3 linked regions of the Homo sapiens genome follow. The protein of the gene in region 1 purifies or fractionates together with the protein of each later gene. This does not show direct contact. Each region holds a gene or a part of one and is shown in the gene's direction. Other genes may lie near its edges.

Region 1 (7,502 bases):
ACCATGCCTAGCCTCAACACTTATTGAGCACCTACTGTGTCCCACGCTCAGGACTGGGCACCAGGGCAATAGAGATAATTGAAACATTGTCCTTTTTCCCAGACAGCTTGCAGCTTAGTCAGCAGATGGATAAGCAAGGGCCACCAAAGTGCAGGGGGAAGACACGGATGGAGGAGACAGAAGGCACAATGCGAGTGGGGCATTCAGGGTGGGTGACAACAGTCATGACCTTGTTGGTGAAAGGCAGTTAGGAAGGTTTCAGAAGAGGGAATGTTTAAGCTAGGTTTCACAGGATGGGAGTAGGGGGATAGAGAAGGGAGACCCAGCATTGCCAGCAGACAGAATAAATTGTGCAAGGGGTTCAGTTGAACTGAAGAAGTGCAGGTCCAGGGTGGGGCAAGGTGAAGGTGAAGCTGGAAAGATGGGTTGGGATCAGATGTTGAAGGGGTGTGGTCACCAGGCTAAGGAGTTTGGGCTTCTTCCTGTTGGCAGTGGACGCCATTACAGTGTTTTGGGCAAGATGACCTGGTCAGCTTTGCTCTTTAGGACGCTTGTCCGGGACGCTGCGTGCAGAGTGATTTGGAGTGGCAGGTGGAGAGCCAGGGATATGAGACAGGACACCATTGAGGTGGCCAGGTTGGAGACAACAGTGGCCAGGACTAGGGTAGAGTGGGGGGTGTGGAGGGGCAGGGATGGATTCAAGAGCTATGTAGGAAGCAGAACCTAGACCCTCCATGGGAAGGCAAACAAGGCTGAGGGGTCAGTGCCTGGGATTCCACTGCCGGAGGTTGCTGGGATGTGGGTCAGGGGAGCAGAGATCAAGGCTTATTTAGCCCCCACTGACCATTCCAGACTCCTGTCATGGCCCTCCCCGGCTCCCTGGCCCCACTTTGCCCACATGGCTTCTCTGTTCTTCAGATGTGAGAAGCTTCTTCTTGCCTCAGGGCTCTCACACATTCTGTTTCCTCTACCTGCAGCACTGTTCCACTTGGCTACAGCCTGCCCTGCCCACTCAGCCCTTGGCGTCTCTGATCTCAGATGGATAGGTCACTCTTGGATCCTCTCACAGAACAGAGCATGTGTGGTTCATGGGACTCACTCCAGCAGTGATGATACAATGCTGCTGCCCGTTCAGTACTGTGCCTCTACTTAACCAAAGCTCCTGGAGGACAGGAACTGTATCTGACTCACTCTCTGCCATATCCAAGCACTCAGCATGGAGCATGGCACTTAGCCGCTTGTTAAACTTTTACTGAATACATGAATGGTGAATTAATGGTGAGGTTTTCTTGGATGCACTGACATCCTTAATGGGCTGTTCAATAGCAGTCGGATATAGGAGCTAGGTTCACACTTTGATGGGATGACAGATTACGAAGTTTGTTACTATGAGTGAATCTAGAAGGTATTTGTCTGAAGAGGAGACCTTGGGGTGGGCTGGGATGGTAAGTGAGCTCAGTACTCCACAGGCTGCCCTTGACTTTACTCTGTACTTTGAAGGATGCAAAATTCAAGCGTCCTGGCTCCTTGCAGCAACTAGAATGTTCAGTAGCCATTTCTGCCACGTGGATAGAAATCTAAGGTCCAAAACAAGGAAGGGATCAAATCCCTTTGCTCCCCTCTGTCCCTTCCTCACTGTAACCTGGGACACTGACAGACAGACCTGTCAGTGATCAGATGAGAAATGGAGAGAGGCCCAGGAGCTTCACATGTGCAAGGGTAGGAGGCAGGCAGATGGCAGACCTGCTCAGCCTAAAGGTGCTTGTGCAAGTACAGGAGGTTCATGCAAGTACAGGAGGCCAGAGACAAAGCTATAAGCCCCAAGGACTCTCAGGGAGGCAGACCTCTTGTGTGAGGAAGGACTGTCTTTGTTCGAAGCCATCCAACAACGAAACTGGTAGGTAGTGAGCTCCCCATCACCATGAATGACCTCCCAGTGGGGCTGCTGTAGGAAAGCCCTAGTGGAAGAAGGGAGATGAAACCCAGATGACCATTATTTTTTATTTTATTATTTTATTTATTTATGTATCTATTTATTTATTTTGAGACCGTCTGGCTCCATCACCCAGGCTGGAGTGCAGTGGCGCAATCTCGGCTCACTTCAACCTCCGCCTCCCTAGTTCAAGTAATTCTCCTCCCTCAGCCTCCCAAGTAACTGAGATTACAGGCACACGCCACCACACCCAGCTAATTTGTGTGTGTGTGTGTGTGTGTGTGTGTGTGTGTGTGTATTTTTAGTAGAGATGGGGTTTCACCATGTCAGCCAGCCTGGTCTCGAACTCCTGACCTCAGGTGATCCATGCAGCTTGGCCTCCCAAAGTGCTAGGATTACAGGCGTGAGCCACCACACCAAGCCTATTTTTATTTATTTATTTATTTATTTATTTATTTAGGCAGTTTCTCGCTCTGTCACCAGGCTGGAATGCAGTGGCACAACCTTGGCTCACTGCACCCTCCACCTCCCAGGTTCAAGCAATTCTCCTGCCTCAGCCTCCTGAGTAGCTGGGATTACAGGTATGCGCCACCACGCCTGGCTAATTTTTTGTATTTTTGGTAGAGATGGGTGTCACCATGTTGACCAGGGCTGGTCTCGAACTCCTGACCTCAAGTGAATGCACCCGCCTCAGCCTCCTCCCAAAGTGCTGGGATTACAGGTGTGAGCCATGGTGCCTGGCCCCAAGATGACCTTTAAAGTCCAATTCCCCTTTTATAAGATGGCGTTTTTGCTTTAGGACAGGAAGTCATCATTAAATATTTTCTCTACCTGCCTAAGCAATGGAAAGATAGCTGCCACCTGCCTCAGAGGCATCCCTGGGACTGTGCAGTTTCCTAAGGAGGAACGGAAGGATCTTGAAGCTGAGTCAAGGATCACTGGGGGCCTCAAGCTAGTCTTGGCCACAGGTCTGGGGCTTCTATGGGTCTGTAGAGGTGACTGGATGGCTGGTGTCCCCAAAGGGACTGTTCTTTTTTTAATTAAAAAAAAAATTTTTTTTTAGAGTTGGGGTCTTGCTATATTGCCCAGGCTGGTCTCTAATTTCTGGGCTCAAGCAATCCTCCTGCCTCAGCCTCCCAAGTGTTAGGATTACAGGCATGAGCCACCGCACCTGGCTGGGGCTGTCCTCAAACAAGAATCCTTCGCCTTGTCATTGGAATATTCTTGCAACTTATCTGCAGGCTTGAAATCTTTCGAAATAAAGTTTTTCTTTAAAAAAAAAAAACACAGATTCTGATTTAAATATTTCAGAGCGAAGCTCAGCATCTGTATTTGTAAATTCTCCCCCAGGGAAATCCAATCTGCAGACAGAGCTGAAAAACACTGATCTAAATGAATTAGAGAAACGTGTATGTAAATAAAATGTATTTTATATATCAGAAATTCTTTGAGAGCAAATATCCAAATGACTTATTAATGTATACTATGTAAGTATGGGGGAGTTTTAGAAACTGATTTTTCTTTAAAAGAATCTTGTCTTTATTTAACCTATGAAGATACAGATGAGGCCGCGTGCAGTGACTCATGCCTATAATCCCAGCACTTTGGGAGGCCGAGGCAGGCAGATCACGAGGTCAGGAGTTCGAGATCAGCCTGGCCAACATAGTGAAACCCCGTCTCTACTAAAAATACAAAAAGTTAGCTGGGCAGGTGGCAGGTGCCTGTAATCCTAGCTACTCAGGAGGCTGAGGCAGGAGAATCGCTTGAACCCAGGAGGCAGGGGTTGCAGCCAGCCGAGATCGCGCCAGGCACACCAGCCCGGGCAACAGTGTGAGACTCTGTCTCAAAAAAAAAAAAAGCAAATGAACACATAATACCTGCAAAGCAAGAAGGCATCTTCCTTTTAATGTTTTATTTTGCCTTTGTTTTGCCTGTTAGTTGTGCCCACTTTGCGGTACAAAAAAATAAGTGAAATAAAAGTAAGTAAAAATGATCATTTCTGCTTACGTTTACAGCTCATTTCATATTCTGCAAAATGTTTTCCCGTCTGCTATCACCGCCGCCATCCTCACAGCAGCCTGGGAGAAAGGCAGAGCCAAAAGTCTCATCTCCACTTCGTGCATGGGTGATCTGAGGCCCAGTTAAGAAAAGTGGCTCTACCGAGGTCCCAGAGTTGGTTGCTGGAGGCACTGGCAAAGGAATCCAGGCTCCAGCCCCCTTCTCTGCCTCCTGCCATCTTCCAGTTGCTTTTTTCCTTTCTCTCTTTCTCTATCTCTTTCCCCTTCTCTCTGCCTTGAACTCTCTCTCTTTCTACTTCAACTTTCCTCTCCTTGCTCCAACCCTCAGATTGGAGTCAGCTTTGCAAGTTGTCCAAACTTTTTGTCACTCTGGAAACCTGCCAGCCCCATGGCCACAGCCCCATCTCATCAAAAGCTCAGCATCTGCACCTAGAGCAAGCCCTTTCCGGATGTCAGCGTGCAAAGATTAACTCTGGTCTCTCCATCTGGCCCTAGATAAGATAAGATTAGGAGAGCGGCACTATAAATAGGCCCCCATCCTTCCTCAGGCGCAGGCCCCAGCCAGCTCAGGCTACACTATCCCAGGATCAGCATGGCCGTCCGCCAGTGGGTAATCGCCCTGGCCTTGGCTGCCCTCCTTGTTGTGGACAGGGGTGAGTGGGCAGAACCTGGATTCTCTGTGGCTTTGTGTTGGTAGGTGAGCTTGGGGTGAGAGCAGAAGCAGGGCCTGGAGCACCCTGTGAGGCCTCAGCTTTTTCCATGTACCTTCATTCTGCATATGCACCCTCCACTGTGCTGGGGAAAGTTCTGGGCTGGGAGAAAAGAAACTTGGGTTCAAATCCTGACTGGCGCAGAATTACCAAAGTCCCCTACCCTCTTGGGGCCTCAGTTTCTCCAGCTGTAAAAGAGGGCATTGTTCCAGTTCAAAGCTGCACTGAGCAACTATTGGGCTGGAGGCTGTGGGGACAGAAGGGAGCAGGTAGGTCCCAGCTCTCAGGAGAGACTGACAAGTATGCTGGGTGCAGGGTGGTGGATGCTAAGAGAGACCTGGCCGAGGTCTTCTGAGCTCCCGATCTCTCTGAAAGGCTGTGGTTTGGGACTTGGGCAGCCATGTGAGCACGACAGAGCCCTTTCCCAGGACTGGACACATATACTTGGGGCAGGGCCCTCTCAGGATCTGGGCCATCCCTGCAATCTCACAGCTACCATGTCAGGCACTGTTCTGAGCCCTTAAGACAGATTAGTGACCCAAACAGAAAAAGCACGGTCCTGATGGAGCATAAATCCAATGGGGTAGAGGAAAAGGGGAAAGGCAATAAACAAGATGGTTACAATGTATGTTAAACGGTATGTTAGAAGCTGATAAAAGTTAAGGAAAAAATACTTGGCAGGGTGATGGGCACTGGAAGGGGGTTGCAATTTCAAATCAGGGGAGGTATCTCTGAGAGTCCGATGTTTGAGCAAAGCTTGAAGGAGATGAGGGACTAAGCCATGTGGATATCTGGGAGAAGATTCCAGGCAGAGGGAACAGCTCAGGTGCAAAGGACCTGAGGCAGGGGCATGCCTGGAGTGACTGAGGTACTGTAAGACCAGTGTGGCAGGAGGGGACATTGTACGGAGTGATAGGAGAGGAGATGAGAGAGGCAAATTGGAACTGTACCGGGAAAGACCTTGTTGGCCAACATAAGAACTTGGCTTTTCCTCTGACTAAAATGGGAGGCACTGAAAGCTTTGAGCAGAGAGTTATGTCTTTCAAGGGTTGCTCTGGTTGGTACATTGAGAATAAACTGAACAGGGAAGCGGGGAGACCAGTTAGGACCCGCCTGGACAAAAGCCATAAGTTATAAGGCAACGCCTGGCAGGATCCAGGGCCACTGACCTCATGGCCAGTCCCACACCCATTTCCCCAGCTGGAAACAGACCTGGGCACAGGGGGAAAGGGAAACGGGTCTGGGGACCTGTTCAGGAGCAGCCTGCTTACGCCCAGCCTGGCACCTACACCTACCTACTCCTTGAGCAGTTGGGAACACTGAAAAGCCTGCTCTGAAGAAGTTTGGTTTTTGTTTGTTTGTTTTTGTTTTTGTTTTTTGCACATTTCAGACTACTGCCTGGGCTGAGTGAGGAGGGGGCATTTTGGGTCAAGGTCAAGGGCAGCCTGGGGGTAAATGTAGCTTTTCCCCACATCCCCCAGAAAGAAACTCTGACATCTTAGAGTTCTGAACACCCCCTCCTCCCAATACACTTTAATTTTTTTTTTTATTTAAACAAAAATTTTTTTTTCAAGACAGAGTCTTGCTTTGTTGCCCAGGCTGGAGTGCAGTGGCACGATCTTGGCTCACTGCAACCTCTGCCTCCTAGGTTGAAGCAATTATCCTGCCTCAGCCTCCTGAGTAGCTGGGATTACAGGCACATGCCACCACACCCAACTAATTTTTGTATTTTTAGTAGAGACGGAGTTTCACCATGTTGGCCAGGCTGGTCTCGAACTTCCAACCCCAAGATTTGCCCGCCTCGGCTTCCCAAGGTGCTGGGATTACACCAATGCACTTTAGTATTCAATTCCTGAACACCCACAGTGTAGGACATTGAACCAAGTGCTGCGCAAAGGCAGACATAAAGGAACCCCAAGGAGCTCAGGTGCATAGGGAGGCGGGGTGACCCAGTGAGTGGGACAGTACATGGTGGTGTGAAAGAAGCCTCCATCCAGATCTGCTCAGGAAACTGTTGGGGACGTCAAGGACAGCTTCACTGGGGGGCAGCATCAAGCCTTGAAAGGAGGGTATGATTCGGCGGGAGGAGAACGGAGACGAAGACATTTCAGGGAGGGGACATGGCATGAGCCAAAGCAGGGCCCAATCTAGGACCCGTGAGCAGAGAGGAATAGCTGGGGCATGGAGAGGTGTACTGGGAAGTCAGCCCAAGAAGCAAGTTTAGGGTCAGCTTACGCAGTACCCTAAACATAAGACTAAGCAGCTCAGGTCCATAGGGAGGCTTAGTGATCAGGACAGGGAACCACGGAAGGGCTTTATATTTTTTAAATGCTTTTCTTTTCCCTAACAGTTAAATATCAAGAAATGCACAAATCTTATCACTCGATGAATCTTGACAATGTATACACTCGTGTAACCCAAACCCCCATCAAGATACAGGACCTCTTGAGACAAGGACTTAGGGAAGAAAAATAAATACAGAACATTTCCATAGCCCCAGAAATTCCCCTATGTCAGTCAATCCCTGCCCCCATCCCAGTGCTCTGACACTTTTTTTTTTTTTTTAAGAGACAAAGTCTCACTCTGTTGCCCAGGCTGGAGTGCAGTGGTGCAATCATAGCTCACTGCAGCTTCAACCTCCTGGATTCAAACGATCCTCCTATCTCAGCCTCACAAGTAGCTGGGACTACAGGTGCGTGCCACCACACTCAGCTAATTTAAAAATTTTTTTAAATTTATTTTTATTTATTTATTTATTTATTTTTGAGACGGAGTTTTGCTCTGTCACCCAGGTTGGAGTCCAGTGGCACAATCTTGGCTCACTGCAATCTCTGCCTACTG
Region 2 (7,021 bases), on another chromosome or scaffold:
GGGCACAGAGCTGGGGGCCCACCCACTGCTGCGGGTGATGCCTGCCGCTCCCTCCTCTGGGCCCCCAGGTCCCCCCGGGGGGTAATAAGACGCAGTATGATGAGATTGGCATTCCCGTGGCCCTGCTCAGCTACAAAGACATGCTGGACATCTTCACGGTAGGTCTGCGCCGGCTCAGACCCACGCTCCCGAGGAGATGGGGCAGGGGGCTTCGGGCTGGCTGCCGGGGGGGTTTGTGCCTCAGTTGGTGGGATCAGGGTGGTGGGTGAGGCGTGGCCCCTGCAGGCCAGGGTCTCCAGCCCCAGCCCCACAGCCCACAGCTGCACGTCGACCCATGGCTGGCGGGTGGCTCTGACGCCTGCCTCCGGTGTGTTCCTTGAGGCAGCGTTTCGGCCGCACGGTGAGGGCGGCGCTGTATGCGCCTAAGGAGCCGGTGCTGGACTACAACATGGTCATCATCTTCATCATGGCTGTGGGCACCGTCGCCATCGGCGGCTACTGGGCCGGGAGTCGGGACGTGAAGAAGTGAGTTTCGCATCGTGCGTGTGCTGTGACGGGGTCGGGCGGCTCTGACACGGGCCGGGACGGCCAGTCTTCCAGAACAGCAGTGAGTGCTTTGGCCTCGGCAGGCACGGCTCGCCCCGTGGAGCCCTTCGTTTCTTCCTCAGGAGGTCCTGGGACAGAATCAGTCTCTTTTCCTGCCAGGGTGGGCTCCGGGCACCTGGTGGGTGTGTAGGGCTGGGCAGGTGTGGATGTGGCAGGTACGGGCGTGGCAGGTGCAGGGCTGGGCAGGTGGCTGGGGCCAGCTACCCTCTTCCTGCTGAGCCGCCTGGGTCTGGGGAGGCCCCATGTCCAGGGCTCTTTATGCAGATCCAAGCTGCGGTTGCTGCCCACACGCCAGCCTCTGGCCCGGCCTAGTGGCCACCCCAGCTCAACCCAGGGACGCGGGCCCTGCCACCCTCTGCTGTGTGGTCTCCTCTGCCCTGGGGACGTTCGGGGCGGTTCCTTGCACTTCAGTCCCCCCCGGGTCCCCTCCTGCTCCCGGGTTTTCTGCCCCGTTCCCCCGGGTGGCTGTGGGCTCCCGAGCCCCGTGTCGGCCAGCCGGCCCCAGGGCCCCACGACCCCATGGTGTCTCCCAAGAAGGTACATGAAGCACAAGCGCGACGATGGGCCCGAGAAGCAGGAGGACGAGGCGGTGGACGTGACGCCGGTGATGACCTGCGTGTTTGTGGTGATGTGCTGCTCCATGCTGGTGCTGCTCTACTATTTCTACGATCTCCTCGGTGCGCGGCCCCGGGCGGGTGGGCCGCGGCGTGGAGATGCAGCCCGCCCCGTGCGGAGGGAGGGTGGCGTGCGGGCCTGGCCCCCGGCCTCACGGCCCTGCCCCTGCAGTGTACGTGGTCATCGGGATCTTCTGCCTGGCCTCCGCCACCGGCCTCTACAGCTGCCTGGCGCCCTGTGTGCGGCGGCTGCCCTTCGGCAAGTGCAGGTGAGTCTGCCCTGCTGGCCCCGACGTGCCTGACTCTGTGCGGTGATGGCCACGGCCCCTTTGCCGCCCCATAGCCCCCCATGGTGCAATATTGCTCAGAGTCTACAGCAGGCGCTCCCTCAGTGCTGGCCTGGGGCTCCTAGGCCCAGGAGCAGGGCGGAGTCTGGGCGAGCTATCAATGGAGCCCACCAGCAGCCAGGCGCCAGGGGTGGCGGGGGGAGGGTGCCCTTGTCCCCAGGAACCCTGCCCCAGGTCGCAGGCCGAACCCTGGGTTCCCCAGGGTTCTCCGGGGAACCCAGAAGGTTCCCCACAGCCCAGAGCTTGGCCTGGCTCTTAGGGGTAAAGGGAGCTGCTGGGGGGTCTCCAACAAAGTCAGACCTGGGTCTAGGAAGCGGGGCTAGCCCAGGGGGAGACCTTTTTGTGTTGCCGTCCCTGGGTGAGGAGGTGGGAGGTCTGGAGCAGGCAGGGCCTCGGGCGAAGGGGCGCAGCGCAGGCGAGGGGCTCTGTGGGTACAGCCCGTGGCCCCCAGCGCCTGCCCGGGTCGGGCTCTGCCCTGCCCTTGGGGTGCCTACTGTTGTCATCGTGTGGGATGTGGAGTTTAATGAGGACAACAGAGTGGGGGCTGCCACTCTGCAGGGGGTGCCTGGGCCGGTCCCAAGGGTGGTGGGCAGTGGGATGAGGCCGGGAGCTGGTGGGCTTGGCTCTGACTGCCCCGTGCCCCCCAGGATCCCCAACAACAGCCTGCCCTACTTCCACAAGCGCCCGCAGGCCCGTATGCTGCTCCTGGCGCTCTTCTGCGTGGCCGTCAGCGTGGTGTGGGGCGTCTTCCGCAACGAGGACCAGTAAGTGCTGCTTCCCCCGGGCCCCGGCGGGCAGCGGAGTCCTCGGGTGCACCAGGGCTCCTGGGGCCCTGACTCCCTGCCCTCCCTGGAGGCCGCCCCAGCCTGGAGCTGCTTCAGCACCGCGTGATGAAGAGCCCTGGCCCCGGGCTGCTCTGACAGGGCTGCGAGGGCGTTTCACCTGGGGTTTGTCCGGGTGTCATGGGAACCCTGACTGGAATCCGGGAGGAGAGGCCGGAGCCCCTGTGGCCAGGAGCCACGTCCTCCAGCCTGGATGGGACTCCTTTGTGGGGCATCGCTGCCCAGGGCCACAGTCTGTCCCCCGCTGTCCCTTTCCTGGCACCCACGTGCACGCCGCAGGTTCGAGGCCCAGGGTGTGGGCACCAGGGCACCCGGTCCTCTTGGTCATGACTGCTGCGGCTTCTGAGCAGTGGTGGAGGTGGGGCAGGCACTGCTCCCCCCACGCTCACCTCCCACGTGGCCTGGACTTGTGGCTGCCTCCCGCTGGCCGGGCCTCCCCCATGAGGCCGAGTGCCTGGTGCCGTGTTGGGAGGACAGAGCTGGCCCGTCCCCGCCCGGTCCCCACCGCTGTCGCTGATACCATCTGGCACTTCCTCCCAGCCTTCCTGAGGCAGCCAAGTACGCTTGGCTTTGGTGTGTATTGGAGCCACGGCACGTTTAACTGGCAGAAGGAAGATGTGAAAATATTTTGAATCCTTTGTACACAAAGAGAAAATGAATCTTTTCAGTTATTTCCAAGCCAGGAAACTCGCTCCGTCACATGAAGTTAGAGCAGGCCTCAGTCAGCTGGGCGCAGGGGCTCACGCCTGGGATCCCAGCATTTGGTAGGCCAAGGCAGGACGATCACTTTGCCCAGGAGTTCAAGACCAGCCTGGGCAACAAGCGAGACGCCCTATTTAAGAAATAATATAAAATCAGAAAAAATAACTGGCCGCAGTTCTCTGGGTGCTTGAAGTACGTGGCGCCTGGAATTGGCTGTACCAGCGTCTCCCATGGAGGCCTCTGCTGTTAGCAGCCGCCCCGCCCTGGAGATGTTTTTATCCCATTTTCAAATGAAGCCTTTGATGTTTGAGACGCTGAGGAACGCTGGGGAACTCGTCCAGCAAGTGACAGGCAGAGCCTGCATTGGGGGCAGGGGCCAGCGGGGAGGGGACTCTGGGGCTTCGTGGGGCCAGGAGAGAGCCGAAGTTGCGGCTGGCTGCAGGGGCCGTGGCCTTGTGCAGGAGGCAGTTCTGTGCTTTGCCCCAGGGCACCAACCGCATGGCAGCCCCACCCACTGTGGACCCAGAGGTTCTTTGAGGAAACCTGGTGTGGCACAAGTTTTAATTTAATAAACAGTTTGGGCACGGGGGCTCATGCCTGTAATCCCAGCACTTTGGGAGGTGAGGCGGGCAGATCACTTGAGGTCAGGAGTTTGAGACCAGCCTGGCCAACATGACAAAACCCCATCTCTACTAAAAATACAAAAAAATTTGCCTGGCATTGTGGTGTGTGCCTGTAATCCCAGCTACTTGGGAGGCTGAGGCAGGAGAATTGCTTGAACCTGGGAGGTGGAGGTTGCAGCGAGTCAAGATCGTGCCACCAAACTCCAGCCTGGGTGACAGAGTGAGACTCCATCTCAAAAACAAAATAAAAACAGTTTGGAGGGGTCAGTGCCCAAGCCCTCCTGCGCACGCACCCTCTGCCTGGCCCCTGCCTACAGCCTGTGACCCCTGCCTACAGCGTGACGCCCACCATCCGGGGACAGTGACTGAGGGGACGCAGCCGGCCAGGCCCGTGTCCACCATCCTGGCCCCACCATCCGGGGACAGCGACTGAGGGGACGCAGCCGGCCAGGCCCGTGTCCACCGTCCTGGCCCCACCATCTGGGGACAGCGACCGAGGAGACGCAGCCGGCCAGGCCTGTGTCCACTGTCCTGGCTGCCGAGTGGTGGGCTCCTCTACCTGCTTCCGCAGGGTGGGCCCTGGGGTGGGGCCTGTGCCGCCAGCCCTGCTGGAGTTGTAACAGCAGGGGTCCTCCCACAGGTCTGGGGTCCTCAGAGTCATCCCCTGGGCAGGTGGAAGGGCAGTGGGGCTGCGTGCTGGCTGAGAGCAAGGGCCCTGTGTGGCTCGTGGGAGGCGGCGTCCTGGGTGGTCAGCCAGCCTCTGCCCCGGCGAGGATGCTGCTTTGTCTTGCAGGTGGGCCTGGGTCCTCCAGGATGCCCTGGGCATCGCCTTCTGCCTCTACATGCTGAAGACCATCCGTCTGCCCACCTTCAAGGTGAGTGCAGGGAGGGCACGGCTGCGGGGCAGCATGGGTAGTGGGGGCCCTTCATCCTAGCCTGGCCCGTGTGGGGCTGTGGTCCTTGCAGGTCTGTGCTCCTGCTCACTGCCCTGGGGATGGCCGCCTAGGCCTGTTGTGAAGGGTGGGGCTTGAAGATTGGGTCCCAAAGCCCCCGCTGAGGCGGCCTGGGTGGGTGGCTGCGGGGCGGTTCCCGGCAGGGGCAACTCATGTCTAGATGAGGTGGTGGTGAGAGTGGTTGAATAGGGCTGGAGGAACTGGCCTCAGGTGGTACCGGGAGTGCGGGGATGTTGTCAAGCCCCAGGCGGCTGCACTCCCGTGAGGGCCCCACAGCACCCCAAGCAAGCGGCATTTGAATGCCCAGGATGGCCCTCTGTATCCCCAGAGCCGGCCCTGCGTGGCACAGGCCTCCGCCCTCCCGTCCCCGCCTTCCTGTTACGTGGAGACTCTAAAAGCCTGACTTTTGCCCGTAAATCCCTACCTGATGTTGCTTCCAAAGCTCCTCCTGCGTGGTGCGTCCCTGGCACTGGGCACGCTCTGCTCAGGTTCCTTTAAAGGCTGCCTCCCAGGAGGAGGCGCTGGGCCTCATGAGATGGGAGTGGGGGAGGCACGGGCCGGGGTGGGGGCCGCCCTCAGCCGTGGGCTTCGCAGGCCTGCACGCTGCTGCTGCTGGTGCTGTTCCTCTACGACATCTTCTTCGTGTTCATCACGCCCTTCCTGACCAAGGTAGGCGACTGCCTGTCCCTGCTCCACCCCATCACCCCGCTCCCCCGCCCCCTCGCAACCCCCGCCCCATCACCCCCCCCATCACCCCGCCCCCTCGTCCCGCCCCCTCGTCCCCCTCCACCCCACACCGTGCTCCCCTGCCCCCCACCCCATCACCCCGCTCACCTCCACCCCATCACCCTGCTCCCCTGCCCCATCACCCCCCATCACCCTGCCCCTTGCACCCCCCCATCGCATCACCCTGCCCCCTCGCCCCATCACCCCACTCCCCTGCCCCCCCACCCCATCACCACGCTCCCTCACTCAACCCCATTCTGTGCAGAGTGGGAGCAGCATCATGGTGGAGGTGGCCACTGGGCCCTCGGACTCAGCCACCCGTGAGAAGGTGTGTCTTCTGACTGCAGGGTCTCAGGTTGCCATGGGTCAAGGTGTTGCGCGGAGCGGATAGGGCTCGAGGCATCCCGCGGCCGGGTGAGGGTCCTGGAGGACATTGTCCTCTTCCCGTCTTTGCAGCTGCCCATGGTCCTGAAGGTGCCCAGGCTGAACTCCTCACCTCTGGCCCTGTGTGACCGGCCCTTCTCCCTCCTGGGTTTCGGAGACATTTTGGTGCCAGGTACTGAGGCGGGTGGAGCACACGGGTCCACGCTGTGGGGCAGGGCCCCGGGCGGCTGAGGTTTGCCTTTGGGAGTGAGTGGCCCGCACACCGTCGGCTGGAGATAAAGCCCTGAGGGTCAGAGTCGGGCAGGTTGGGGCCGTTGAGGCCTGGGTGCCTGGGCAGCGAGGGCATTGCCTGGGTGGGGTAGGGACCCCCTTTGTTCCTAGGGAGCGGGGAAGGCCCCCCGATTGCAGACAGCCTCACCCCATCCTGCTCGGGGTTGTGCAGGGGTCCTTGCTGGGGCCTGGATCCCGGGTCCCAGTGAGCTCATGTTGCTGCAGAAGGCAGAGACTGTACCCTCGCAGCCTCAGTGTCCCCAGGGTCCTGCCAGGTGTGTCTGCCTGGACTTTGTTCTCACTGTGGTCTCAGTTTACCCACTGAGAGTCATGGCAGCCCTGTCCCGAGCGAGCGTGTGGCCTGTCTGTGAAATGACAGCAGCCACCAGGCAGCGAGAGGCCCACGGCGCCCACAGGTGCTCAGGTGCCCGCCCGCTCCCAGGAAGCCCCTGCTCTGAGGCTCTGCGGGCCCGAGTAAGCCTCCGCCCTGTGCCTCCCCCAGGGCTGCTGGTGGCCTACTGCCACAGGTTTGACATCCAGGTACAGTCCTCCAGGGTATACTTCGTGGCCTGCACCATCGGTAAGTGCCTCGGTTGGGCCCGTGCTGGCCTCTCTGGCTCCAGCCCCACCCCGACTTAGCCTCTGTCCTGACCCTGACCCCTAACCCCAACCCCAACCCTAACCCTAATTCCAACTCTAACACCGTAACCATAACACCCTAACCCTAACCCCCTGGCCACTCCGGGAGCTGGGCTCGGGTGGCTGGGCCTGTGCCTGCATCCCCCTCTTTCTCATTCTCCCCGGGCCTGTGCCTGCAACCCCCTCTTTCTCATTCTTCCTGGGCCTGTGCCTCTGTCCCCATCTTCCTCATTCTTCCTGGGCCCGTGCCTGCATCCCCCTCTTTCTCATTCTCCCCGGGCCTGTGCCTGCAACCCCCTCTTTCTCATTCTTCCT
Region 3 (6,888 bases), on another chromosome or scaffold:
TTAATTCTGCTTAATAAAAGCAACTGATATTTATTTGGGGGCAGAAACTATATAAAGTCTTTATATAAGCTGTTTCGTTTAATCCTCTCAACAGTCTCATGGCTAGGTATTATTATCCCCACTTTACAATGAAAAAGAATGGTGGCAAAATAATTTAATTTTTTAAATATTTCACAGGTAATAAGAGATGAAGCTGGAATCTGAAAACCAGAAAGTCTAACTTCTGAGACCATGTTCTTAGTATTGTATATGCTTACATAGAGAGCCTTGCTGTTTCCCTACAGAATTTAGCTGTTTCCTTTCCTTTATTGTTTCATCCCCAGAAAACTATCTTAGTAACCTCTTTAAAAGTAAAGTAGATGGCTGTTAACTTAAAATACTATATATGACACCATGTAATCTTTTTTTTTCTTTTTGAGATGGAGTTTTACTCTTGTTGCCCAGGCTGGAGTGCAATGGCGTGATCTCAGCTTACTGCAACCTCCACCTCCCAAGTTCAAGCAATTCTCCTGCCTCAGCCTCCCAAGTAGCTGGTATTACAGGCGTCCACCACCACACCCAGCTAATTTTTTTGTACTTTTAGTAGAGATGGGGTTTCAACATGTTGGCCAGGCTGGTCTCGAACTCCTGACCTCAGGTGATCCACGCACCTCAGCTTCCCGAAGTGCTGAGATTACAGGCATGAGCCACTGTGCCTGGCTGACACCATGCAATCTTAAAAGCTGAATGACTATTTTTGAAATCCTATGGATAATCTGGCAAAAATAATTGAGCTTATCCTTTCGTATAGTGGATTGATTAGAAATGAAGTTCTACTCAAGACCCATTAATGTAGGACCATCAAGTTAAACTTTTTTTCTTTTCCACTCTGAAAAAATACAACAGATAATGTTTGCTTCTAAATAAAATTGCAGAACCACTAGCAATTCATTCTCAGTTGGATCTCCAGAGCTGACCATACAAACTTCTACTTGTTTCTCCCATTCCTCTTAGTTGTCAATCCTTTCCCATTACTTTCCCATTTCTCTCAGTTGCAAATCCAAACCATTTTCACATTTCAAGACTTAATTCCTATTCCCCCATCTTTCAAACTTGTCTCCTATGTTACTGTGGAAACTGAGGCCATCAGACTTGAATTCTATGAACTCTCTCCTGCCAGATCTACAAATTTATCCCCATGTTCACCCATCCTTCTAACATTCTCTTAGAAGATAAGGTCTCATCTCCTTCTGGCCCAAATCAAATTCTCTACCTGTGTTTTTGGTTCTGTCCTCTCCCATCTCTGCAAGGACCTTGAACCATTAATTTTCCTTTCTGCCTCTTGTATTGTGTTAGATTTGCCAAATATATTGCTCCCATACCCACAATTTCTTATGAGGGGAGGTGATGTTCCCATGATCTCTGCAAAGGAATAGCCATGTTTCGCACTATGCAAACTTCTCTGTACTACATGATTGGACCAAGTGGGCACCTATGTCAAAGGGCATCCAATTTACAGAGTGCCCAGATAATTCAGACATGGTCTGGCATGAAATGAGGAGCACGGCCTGTGACCTTTTTAAATTTTTTCAAAGGCTGCTTAGTGCTCTAAGAACAAGATATCCATTTTAAGTGAAATGAGTGGATTTTTATTATTAGAAAAGTTATGAAATGATCTTTGATGCATGTGTTGCCTGTGAAAGTCATTCACTTTAATGTTCAGTGGGAGTAAGTGTAATCCATGTAATTGCTAGAAAGCTAGGCATCTTAGCACAGGAATAATCACACTGAACATTAGTAATGATAAAAATATCATTTATAGCGGCCTATCATATGGATTTTAAATACATCATCTCTGTCATGATAATCCCATGATATAGGTTCTAATATTACCAATTTTCAGATAAAAAAAAAAAACTAAGGCCCAGAGAACTTGGGTCACTCAATTAATAAGCAGCAGAGCTAATTAGAGTCTGGGTCCAAAGCTTAAGCACTCTTCGTCTTCTTTATATTTGGCTTTTTCCTAGCCAAAAACATGGAGGCATTGCTTACTTTTACTTTATCATTGTTATCTTGGCATAACATCAAAATAATTAGGAGCTGATATACCTAAGTGTATAAAACAGGATAAAATTAATTGATGAGGAATTAGATAAGGAAAATAAAATCAAACTAGGGGCAAATTTCATGTATAAAAATGTGTACTGTGCCATACATTTTGTAAGTGGAGTCTCTAAAGATTGCTTCATAAGGAAGAAGTGAATAATGACTTTGGGAACACTTGGTAACCCCTAGGACTCAAAAGATTGGGTGTGAGAAGTTATTAGTAAGCATATGTATTAGGCAAAATACAGTGAGATGAACCTGGAACAAATGCTCGCTGAATGCACTTAGAAATATTATCAGGCGACTCAGCCTATAGAGCATACGGGTTAGAATGTCTATTTTAAGAAGGAGCGGATATTTACTAAATGCTAATTTGAGCAAAGTTCTACAAAAATATCACTGACCATGAATATTCAGGCATTGACATGCTACAAAATAGCATATCGAAAAGAACATCTGTTGCCCTAAAGATGGTTTCCTGCACAGAACGTCTCCAAATTTTCAGCATTCATAGGCTGGCCCCGTTTCTTCTTGGTTAACATTTAGAGGCACGCCTAAACTTAGAGGAACACCTCTCTAAACCAAGGAGACACTTAAAGAGAAAAGGAGTAAAGATGGTGATGGGCTTATAAAGAGCAATGTAATAGTGTCTTTGAAGCAAAAGCTAACTTAATGAAAACGTGGTCCCAATTTCCTTAAATCTGGATCACCGTACGACTTCTGTAATACTTATTATTTCCCCAGCTGGCAAATAAACTGGAGTTCAAGTGGGAAAAAACAAGGTATTGTTCAGACTTATGATTTTTGGGGTCAAAGATTCTGAGCAATAACCTATTAAAAAACCCAGCTTTTGATTTGAGTATGTAAGTAAGTACATGGGAGGAACGTATGGATCTGGAGTGGTGGTAAATACAGAGCATGTTTGCTTCGCAAAGCAGATTAGCTCATACTTAATAATAGAGTAAATCTGTTGGGCCATGACTCAATGCACCCAAATTCTCTAGATTGCTATGTCTCTACTCGCTAAGCCTTCGGGAACAACAAGCACAGAACTTTTAGGGTGCTGTCTCACTGATGTCGGCGTTAGCTCTGGTAGTCCAGGTCAAGATTATACCAAAGATTCAGGACTTAAATTCCTGCAGAATGTAAGCCCCTTTCCAAGTTCTCTGCTTTACTGTATCCTGTTTATTTTCAAACTCAAATGGAAAAAAACGAAACAAAAACCTTGGGCTTCAAGAGGCATCCTGCCGCAAGGCCCAGCGATGTGAATTTTCAACAACCGTCTCAGGCAGATTTCATGCTGATGGTTCAGGCACTAAACTTTGAAAAACACAGTATCACAGAGTAGGGATGGTGATGTAAGAGTCATCTGTAAAAGCTGTGCTGTTTTGGCAGCCTGGGAGGCTAAGGTTTAGTCTAGGCGACTAAGGTTTAGTCCGGGCTGTATTCACACCCAAAACAACTAAAAAAGCGGAGGAGTCTTTGAGTCAATCCCTGAAGCTCCGGCTAAGAGGAAACTCGCCCACGCTCCAGGGCAGCGACGCCGGCTCCACCTCAGCCACGGCTGTCTCAAGCTTCTCGGGGTTTTCCGCCGGCTCCACCCGAGCCACAAGTCTACAGGACTCCTCGGAGCTTTCCGCCGGGACGCAAGACCCACCGCCAGAGGTTGGTACCTCCTAGAGAACAGCGAAGCGCATCCCGAGGGCCGCCGGCCGGAAGCGCCCTCCAGACCCGCCCCCTGCCCTCCGGAGCCGGAAGCTGGGCATCTGCAGCTGGCTCGGCGCACTCCACTGACCGTCCCGACGATGCTACGCGCGCCCGGCTGCCTCCTCCGGACCTCCGTAGCGCCTGCCGCGGCCCTGGCTGCGGCGCTGCTCTCGTCGCTTGCGCGCTGCTCTCTTCTAGAGCCGAGGGACCCGGTGGCCTCGTCGCTCAGCCCCTATTTCGGCACCAAGACTCGCTACGAGGATGTCAACCCCGTGCTATTGTCGGGCCCCGAGGCTCCGTGGCGGGACCCTGAGCTGCTGGAGGGGACCTGCACCCCGGTGCAGCTGGTCGCCCTCATTCGCCACGGCACCCGCTACCCCACGGTCAAACAGATCCGCAAGCTGAGGCAGCTGCACGGGTTGCTGCAGGCCCGCGGGTCCAGGGATGGCGGGGCTAGTAGTACCGGCAGCCGCGACCTGGGTGCAGCGCTGGCCGACTGGCCTTTGTGGTACGCGGACTGGATGGACGGGCAGCTAGTAGAGAAGGGACGGCAGGATATGCGACAGCTGGCGCTGCGTCTGGCCTCGCTCTTCCCGGCCCTTTTCAGCCGTGAGAACTACGGCCGCCTGCGGCTCATCACCAGTTCCAAGCACCGCTGCATGGATAGCAGCGCCGCCTTCCTGCAGGGGCTGTGGCAGCACTACCACCCTGGCTTGCCGCCGCCGGACGTCGCAGGTGACCCCCCGGGCGGCCCGTGTGCTGTCCCGGTCCTCCCACCCGCCCTGGATGCTCTCCCGCCTCCCCCAGACCCTGGGCTTTTCCGATGCCCCCCAGTTCTCTTTCCTCTTTTCCCAAGCCATCATCCCTCGGGCTACGTCCTCCCTGTCGAGGGATATTACAGACTTGGCTATCTCTTTTTCCCCTTACACGTATGTTCATTTATTAATTCATCAGGTGTAAATTCAGCACCTTGTACTCGCTGCCTGCTTTAGTAGAGTTGGGGATCCAACAGGAAAGGGGACAGACGAGGTCTCCCGCAATTTTTGCGCTCCCGTTCCCAAACTGAATTGCCCCTTCGAGCGCCAACCCATCCCTTCCCCCTTCCCTGGCGTCTAGTTTCACAATTGGGCGCACGTTTTAAAAAACAGAATCTAGAATTTTCTTCCTCGGGCTTTGCTTCCGATACTAGTTTTTCCTTCTTTCTTTTTTTTTTTTTTTAAACTCATCATCTTTTTCAGATGACAGTTTTAGACCTACACCCTGTTTTAGGAACCTGATCTCAAGCCTTTGTGTCCTCCTTTTTTCTTCTGTTTTGTTCATGTTTTTACTGTAGCGTTCCCATCGTTGTAGCTGTGGTCCGTGGTCACAAGCAGTAACAACTCATTTATTCCATTAATTACACTTTTTCGAAATTTGAGAAATCATCTAGTAAGGCCCCGTTATTTCACAGGTGAAGAACCCGAGCCCAAGAGTATGCCTTCTTAATTGTCTTTCTCTAAGGTCTAGTATCCAAGTCTTCTGTTTTCCTAGAATGGTTCTTTTTCTCTTAGAAAATGTTGTAATAGTTACAAATAATAATGATAGCATACACCTCATGCCTATTGTATGCCAGGTATGCCTCACATTTATTTTACAAAATCCTTACAACCACAATCTGGAGTTGATAGTATTTTCCCCTTATCTCAAAGATGAGGAAATTGATACACGAACACATTAAATAATTTGCCCATTTTCATACAGCTAGCTGTGGACCCAGGAAATCTGATTCAGAGCTTGCTTTCTTAGCCATTATGCTATACTGCCTCCATTTGTCCAATAACATACCTAATAAGAATAAAAACATGTAACATTTTTGTACCACAGAGATGAGCAAGCATTAATAGTTTCTTGATCACTTTTAAGGCCAGAATTGAAGTGAGGATTATTGTTTAGCTTCAAAGCCCAAGTGAAAAATTAGAAGTAGGCTGGTTTGTAATTTCTTCTGTAGCTGTTGAACAGTGAAACCATCTGTAAGGGATTTCTCCACTGATTCTGTGTCATGTTATTGTGGGTAATTCAGTTAGCTGACTTGTGTCTAATTACTTGTTGAACTGTGTTTTTTTTTAAATATATACTTTTTCCATTAGCATGAGTGAAAATTCCTCATAAATCTGTTAAATTAACAGAATGGTGAAAGCAGAACATATTTTAATATAACACAATATCTATAGCGACTTCCTGGAACAAGTGAATTTTTGTTCTCAGATGGCATTGCGAAGACTGGCATTTGACTCTCAGTACAGAGCCAGGGATGAAAATACTACAGTTCAGAATAAGCCCACTCCTGACCGTTTTCAGTGTCAGATAGCAAACCCTTTGCCTAGCCACTTTATTATTCTCTATAGACAATAGTTTTGCCTATTATGTACATCTGGTCTTTTGAGGGAGTCTGCTGAATTAGATTTGTAGTTTTGTAGAAACAGAACAATGCCTTTGTTTTTGTTTAAAGACTAGCAATAATTAGATAGTAACAAGGATAAAATACCCAGATGCACTTGGGAAATTATATTTTAGTGTACACAGAAAAAAGGTGACAAAGTTCGCTTATTTTCCTAGTCAAGATATTTTCTTAAGAATTGCAATCCAGTTGACAAAGTGGGCAGAATTATCCATTTCAAGAGAAACAAACATACATACTGATTTTTTTTGCATACACATCCAAAGCCCAGATAAAACTATATTCAATTTTCTCATATTTTATGTACAAAAATGATATACTTGGTGTTCTTTTCGTGGTAAATTGTTGGAGAAATGATTGAAAAATGTGTGTTTTGAATATGACTGAAAAAAACGTAAAGGGCACACCAGTAGTTGAAGCATGATTATGAATGCTTCTCCAATACATATTTGTTGCCCAATTGGGGGCATAATGTAATTTATTAAATTTTATATAGAAAGTTATCTGGGGCTTCAGTTAAAAGATAAACCAATTCACAGGCCCAGCACAGTGAAGCACAGGAGACCCAAAACATCAGTGCGTTTTGTGCTGCTGTCAGTAGTTTTTGTCCAAAGCAGAATCTTTGTAAAGTAATACAGAGTTGGGAAGGTTAATTGAGA

What was found. The genes of interacting proteins can lie anywhere in the genome.
Region 2: the proteins of SPINK4 (region 1) and SPPL2B purify together in Homo sapiens (affinity purification with mass spectrometry; 2 studies listed by BioGRID and IntAct, with this or other methods). This does not show direct contact.
Region 3: the proteins of SPINK4 (region 1) and MINPP1 purify together in Homo sapiens (affinity purification with mass spectrometry; 2 studies listed by BioGRID and IntAct, with this or other methods). This does not show direct contact.

Annotation. Positions count from the first base shown.
Region 1 is NC_000009.12:33,235,666-33,243,167, forward strand, and holds the start of SPINK4 (serine protease inhibitor Kazal-type 4 precursor), read left to right. Parts: upstream 1-4,501; 5' UTR 4,502-4,543; coding exon 4,544-4,604; intron 4,605-7,502.
Region 2 is NC_000019.10:2,338,684-2,345,704, forward strand, and holds part of SPPL2B (signal peptide peptidase-like 2B isoform 2 precursor), read left to right. Parts: exon of another isoform or gene 1-68; coding exon 69-158; intron 159-381; coding exon of another isoform or gene 382-385; coding exon 386-525; exon of another isoform or gene 526-607; intron 608-1,140; coding exon 1,141-1,283; intron 1,284-1,392; coding exon 1,393-1,489; intron 1,490-2,214; coding exon 2,215-2,331; intron 2,332-4,527; coding exon 4,528-4,609; intron 4,610-5,281; coding exon 5,282-5,356; intron 5,357-5,678; coding exon 5,679-5,741; intron 5,742-5,869; coding exon 5,870-5,969; intron 5,970-6,569; coding exon 6,570-6,647; intron 6,648-7,021. UniProt on the Homo sapiens protein: Intramembrane-cleaving aspartic protease (I-CLiP) that cleaves type II membrane signal peptides in the hydrophobic plane of the membrane. Functions in ITM2B and TNF processing.
Region 3 is NC_000010.11:87,501,026-87,507,913, forward strand, and holds the start of MINPP1 (multiple inositol polyphosphate phosphatase 1 isoform 1 precursor), read left to right. Parts: upstream 1-3,867; 5' UTR 3,868-3,890; coding exon 3,891-4,527; intron 4,528-6,807; exon of another isoform or gene 6,808-6,888. UniProt on the Homo sapiens protein: Multiple inositol polyphosphate phosphatase that hydrolyzes 1D-myo-inositol 1,3,4,5,6-pentakisphosphate (InsP5[2OH]) and 1D-myo-inositol hexakisphosphate (InsP6) to a range of less phosphorylated inositol phosphates.